Linked DNA regions of Homo sapiens: region 1 is linked to region 2. Evidence: fine-mapped expression QTL. A gene starts in region 2. The other region holds a variant in brackets. All regions are shown on one strand. Distances are from middle to middle.

What was found. PIP is the estimated chance that this variant, and not a neighbour inherited with it, causes the effect.
Region 1: its variant is the best candidate, but not a certain one, in a credible set for the expression of NUBP2 in sigmoid colon (GTEx, PIP 0.56).

The regions. Positions count from the first base shown.
Region 1 is chr16:1,533,532-1,536,248 of GRCh38, forward strand. All of the region lies in intron 19 of IFT140 (intraflagellar transport 140), which reads right to left. It overlaps TMEM204 (transmembrane protein 204), which reads left to right and starts at 135. Exons shown (of 3, transcript NM_024600.6): 1 at 135-1,024. The coding sequence starts at 745. RefSeq lists enhancers at 1-164, 165-868. The variant G/A (reference allele first, on the strand shown) is at 1,315.
Region 2 is chr16:1,781,095-1,784,096 of GRCh38, forward strand. NUBP2 (NUBP iron-sulfur cluster assembly factor 2, cytosolic) reads left to right here and starts at 1,866. Exons shown (of 7, transcript NM_012225.4): 1 at 1,866-1,942. The coding sequence starts at 1,927. EME2 (essential meiotic structure-specific endonuclease subunit 2) reads left to right here. Exons shown (of 8, transcript NM_001257370.2): 8 at 1-608. SPSB3 (splA/ryanodine receptor domain and SOCS box containing 3) reads right to left here and starts at 1,477. Exons shown (of 7, transcript NM_080861.4): 1 at 1,408-1,477; 2 at 264-401. The coding sequence starts at 389. RefSeq lists silencers at 1,085-1,444, 1,945-2,154, 2,582-2,808 and an enhancer at 1,655-1,804.

The DNA of each region.
Region 1 (2,717 bases), 250 kb before region 2:
GCAGGGCCTCAGAAGTCTCCTGGCCTTTCCCATCAGGAAGCACATCCTGTTGGTGTCTGGCTGCCGCGGCAGGGCCGCTATTTGTTGCGGTTGGCTACGCCTTCCAGCTCACCAAAAACAGTCTCAAAAACAACCATTTCCTCTCTGCTGAGAGCCAGGGAAGGCGAGCTCTGCGCACACGGGCGTCCCTGCAGCAGCCACTCTGCTTTCCAGGACCGGCCAACTGCCCTGGAGGCATCCACACAGGGGCCCAGGCAGCACAGAGGAGCTGTGAACCCGCTCCACACCGGCCACCCTGCCCGGAGCCTGGCACTCACAGCAGGCCGGTGCTAAGGAGTGTGGCGCGGGCTCGACTCCCACTGCTGCCGGCCTCCCGAGTGACTCTGTTTTCCACTGCTGCAGGCGAGAAGAGGCACGCGCGGCACAGGCCGGCCTCCGCTTCCCGGGAAGACGGCGCACTCCTGGCCCTGGGTTCTTGCTGCTGCCCACCCTCTGCTCCCTGGGATGGGCCCCGAGGCGAGCAGCTTCAGCACAGGCCTGGCCCTGCTCCAGGTGCAGGAAGGAGGATAAGGCCGGGCCGAGAGGCGGCACACCTGGACCATCCCATGGGCCTCCGCCCGCGCCGCCCCGAGGATGAGTGGTGATGTCCTCTAGCCACCCCTAGCAGCGTCGGCTCTCCCTGGACGTGCGGCCGCGGACTGGGACTTGGCTTTCTCCGGATAAGCGGCGGCACCGGCGTCAGCGATGACCGTGCAGAGACTCGTGGCCGCGGCCGTGCTGGTGGCCCTGGTCTCACTCATCCTCAACAACGTGGCGGCCTTCACCTCCAACTGGGTGTGCCAGACGCTGGAGGATGGGCGCAGGCGCAGCGTGGGGCTGTGGAGGTCCTGCTGGCTGGTGGACAGGACCCGGGGAGGGCCGAGCCCTGGGGCCAGAGCCGGCCAGGTGGACGCACATGACTGTGAGGCGCTGGGCTGGGGCTCCGAGGCAGCCGGCTTCCAGGAGTCCCGAGGCACCGTCAAACGTAAGTCCAATTGTTTTCCTGATGCCTTCAGCGTGGCCGAGGCTCGAGGGCACATGGGAGATGTTAGGCGCGGACCTGGTGAGCGGGTGGGGAGGCCTGGCCCCTGCTCTGCCCTGAGCGTGGCCTCTGGGCAGGCAGGAGGGGGCACTGTGTCTCCCAGGGAACCAGGCCCCAAGGCCCCCTCTCCCTGGTGAGTGGTGGCCCCACACACTCCTCCTGCTCAGCACAGAATCTGCCTCCAGCTCTTTTACACAGGAATTCATCTCAGGCATTTGGGGGGCCTCTCTGCC[G/A]TTACACATAGTTAAGAGATGGGTACATTAATCAAATCAAGGAAAGGCATTTTTCCTTGGTTGAAAATAATTATTACGGCTGGGCGCAGTGGTTCACGTCTGTAATCCTAGCGCTTTGGGAGGCTGAGGCGGGAGGACTGCTTGAGGCCAAGAGTTCAAGACGAACCTAGCCTACATAGCGAGAGACCCTGTCTCTGAACATAAAAAAAAAATGAAAATGCTCTTTCTTTACTCATGAGTAAAATAAACAAGAAGTTTAAAAATACACGGGTGAGTTCTGGCTTTGTTCTCACGGTTGTTGGGGTCTTTGAGGCAGAGAGCAGCAGCAGGATCCCCAGGGATGAGCTTCAGATGGGACGCTGGAAAGGAGACAGGGAGGCCAGGACGCTCGGAAGGGGACAGGGATGCTCAGTGGTTGCAGAGGAGAGGAAGGGGCTCAGAATGATGCCACCGCACCGTGGGGTTTGAGTGGCAGGTGTGAGGCTGCATAAATAGGAAGGCGCTTACAGCCCATGGGGTCATCTCAACAGTCACGGCACAGGGACACAAGGTCTCCCAAAGGCCGACTCTCTGAAACTGTCAGCAAGGTTTTGACTCGCAGACACCCCAAGTCTCTGCTGCAGAGCCTCACAGACTCGGGGTTGGACGCTCCTTCTGCTCTGAAGATAATGCTGGTCTCTGAGGCAGTGCCTCTGCTCCAGGCTTCCGAGGGAGTCCCGGAGTACTGGGGTAACACACATCACGTGTGCCTCAACCACACAGCTCCATCCCCAACCTGCCGCGCTCAGAACCCTCAGCGGGGAATGTCATCCCCACTTCACAGGCAAAGAAACTGAGGCTTTGCAGAAGGCATGTGGCTTGGACAAGGTCCCACGAGGGAATTCAACCCCCTTGTCCACTCAAAGGCCCTCGGCTGCACCGCACAGCCTGGACTGCGCACTTCCTCTCGCATCCTTCACCAGCAGGGACCAACAGCCGTCTTTTAAAAAGATCAAAGCCTATGAATAACTTCAAAGCTTCCACCGGCTCTCAGAACTCGGTGTCTTATGGGAAGCCCGAGGCTTGGGTCTCCGCGTGACTCCGGCCAGGCGCCCTTCTTCCAGACTCTGCCTGCTCTGCTGAAGAAGGAGCCGCAGCCCCGTTACTGTGCTGAACCTCTCGCGGGGGCAGCGGCTTTAGGCCCCTGGAGGTGGGGCCGGGCGCTCATGTGCTTTGGGACCATCACTGGCGTCCAGCCCACAGAGCACCCCCGGGGGAGGGAGTTCCCAGCCGGCCCTTGGCCGCAGCTCTGCACCTCCAGGCCTCCTAACTGCTGCCACCAACACCCACAGGTGGCCCAGGCAGCCCAATCTCAGGGCAGCTGGAAGCCTTGGCGCCCCTCCCTGTTGCTACCTCTTGCGTTC
Region 2 (3,002 bases):
TGTTTCAGAGGAGAAAGCACAGTGAAGAATGCAGTGTGTTCTGAGGTCCTGTCACCCCTGAGGCTGTGTGTGTCCTTTGCCAAATTAAAGAGTCTTACTGAATGCGGTGCATCCAGGAGACAGGCCCAGGTTTGGACTGGTCCTCTAGCCTCAGAAGCATCTTTTTCTCCGACTGATTCCGTGTTCAGGTAATGTCTGCCTGCCTGCCTAGGGCATCTCCACACCTTAGGCCAGCCACGTCCGCCTCGCCCGCTGGAACCTACCTGCCCATCAGAGTCGTAGCCCCAGTTAGTGGAGCCTGCTAGAGCCACGGCCCGGGCATCTGCGTCTCGGCGGGCTGCACTCAGGACGAAGTGCCAGGCCCTGCTGTTCCGGGGGCGTCTGGCCATGGTGGAAAGAATCTAGAAGAAAACACAGGCTCTGGGCAAAGGAAGACTCACAGCACTCCCAGCCCTGAGCTTCCAGGCTGGGCCACGGACCCACTCAAAGTGGGGACTGCAGGGGCCGCACCGGTGCCCAGCCAGGGCTCCAGAACGCTTCAGGAGCCCGTACCTCACTCCAGGATCTGAGCAGCTCAATAAAACCCAGGTAGATCCTGTGAAACGCCACCCAGACACCCATGACTCCGGAATGCGAATCCCAGCCCCTCTCTCCGGTTCCACCTCACGAACCTGGCTGCCCCGCCCGCCTGTCCCGCAGGCATCTAAAACCTCCACTCGCTCCTCCTCTGTCGTCCGGTTTGACAAATGGCATCTCCGGCCTCCCAGTTCCTCATGCCAGAAGCACCGTGACCGCTCCCCGACACCTTCCCCTCACGCCCGGCCCGACCGCCGCACCCGCCTGCATCCTCCTCCCGCCACCGTCTCCTGGGCCGCGCAGCTCGCCTTCCCCTCCGCTCGCTACCGCCAGGGCTCCTCGTGAAACACAAATCTTAAAACCTGCTCAGCGCTGGCCGCTGTTATGGTATAAAATGCAAAAGGCTGCGAGGGCCAGGTCTGCGCTTCCCAGGCCACCTGCCTGGCACCTCCCTCGCCAGCTCCGGGGTTCCCGCCTAGCCTTCCAGGGCCGACCCCTGCGCCGGGCTCGCGGCTGGCAACGCCCGCTGGGCCCCGGGTGGGGTTCCAGGGAGGCCGGGGCGGATCGCGGCGCCCGGACCGCCGAACCCTGCCCAGCCCCAGGCGAGCGCGTGTGCAGCGGGAGCCGCCCTCCCCGGCGGCAGCCCGGCCTGGCTGTTCCCTCCCGCGGGCGCGCGGGTTCCGGAGTCGGCGGCACCGGGGAAGCCTCTCTCGGGCGCGGCCCTCCGGAGAGGAACAAAGGCGGCGCCCTGGCCGCGCTGCTACCGCCGCGCCCGCAAGGTCAGCGCGCCCGCCCAGAGCCCGAGACGTCGGCCCGTGCCCCGCCACTCACCTGCAGCCCCCGCTGCGCGCTCCGCCGGCCCGGCCCTGACCCACTTTCCGCCCCGGAGCGAGACGTAAACAATCCCCGCCCCCTGCGCCCATTGGCTCCGGCGGCGAGGGGCGGGCACACCTGTCTCGGAGCTTCGGGAGAGGGGGCGGGAGTCGGGTGACAAAGCTATTGCCGAGAGGTTTCAGGAACTGTCAGTCCTAATCCAACGTTCCTATTGGTCAGTTCCCAAGCGGTTGGAGACAAAGCTCGCGCGCACATTGGACCCGGGTGGGAGGTGGTACCGCAGGCCGCGTTGACCGGAAAGTAGGTCCGTGTCATCGTCTGCGCCGGAACCTGCGGGACCGGATCGAGAGCTCCTCCGGCAAGCTGATTGGCTGGGACAGCAGGATTAGGCCTGTCAAGAAGAGCCACGGGCGGGCACGCACTGCCCATTGGTTGGAAGGCCCTTCGCTCTAGCTGGGAGGCTGACGGCCCGCGGGCGTAAGCGGACTGCAGCCGCGAGCTCCTGGAGGCGGCGGGATGGAGGCGGCGGCCGGTGAGTGGCGGGCCAGGGTGCGGAGCCGCTCCAGGGCCTCGCTTGGGGCCCCGCCGCGTCCCTTCCCGGGGCGGCCTCGCTGCGTCGCGCGCCTCCGGTGCGACCATCACCGGCCGGCGTGGCTGGGCCGGGCCAGAGGCCGCGGCGCGGGCATTTTCTAAACAGGGTCGTTTCCCGCGTGCTCCTGCTTCGATGTGGAAGCTCCGTGATCTCGGAGGGCCTGAGTCGTGGAGTTGGGGGAGCTTTTAAAGTTAACTTTGTTGAGCACCGCGTTGTAGGCGGGCGCGGTGGCGCCTGTGGGCCCCGCTATCCTGGAGGTCGCGGTTGCAACTGCACCGCAGCCCGGGCAAGAGCGAGACCCTGTCTCTAAATAAATCACACGCGCGCAGTCATGAAAGTAAGACGGACGCCAGAATCTCACATGCTTTTAAGTTCTTTGTGGAAGTGGCGCTCTCAGTGTTCAGAAAAGTGTAAGTTGCGCGGGACAGAATTCACACCAGTGGGGACGATCCGTTCGCCAGATCAGCGCCGTGGGCCCTCCTGAGTAGTGGGAGCCGCATTTATCTTCTAAGAGACCTCGAGTCCGATACCAAAAGGAAAACATTCCTCGGACAGCAAGGTCTTGCAGCACAACTCTGACAGATTAGAAACCGAGTGCTGGAGTCTTTTGTTTTTGAGACGGAGTCTCGTTCTGTCGCCCAGGCTGGAGTGCAGTGGCGCGGTCTCGGCTCACTGCCAGCTCCGCCTCCCGGGTTCACGCCATTCTCCTGCCGCAGCCTCCCGAGTAGCTGTGACTACAGGCGCCCGCCACCACGCCCGGCTAATTTTTTGTATTTTTAGTAGAGACGGGGTTTCACCGTGTTAGCCAGGATGGTCTCGATCTCCTGACCTCGTGATCCGCCCGTCTCAGCCTCCCAAAGTGCTGGGATTACAGGCGTGAGCCACGGCGCCTGGCCCAGTGCTGGAGTCTTATTCCAGAGGAGAAGCCTGGAAAAGCCTGTCCTTATTATCAGGACGGATTTACTACAAAGTAAGGATATTACTGAGATTGATAGAAGCT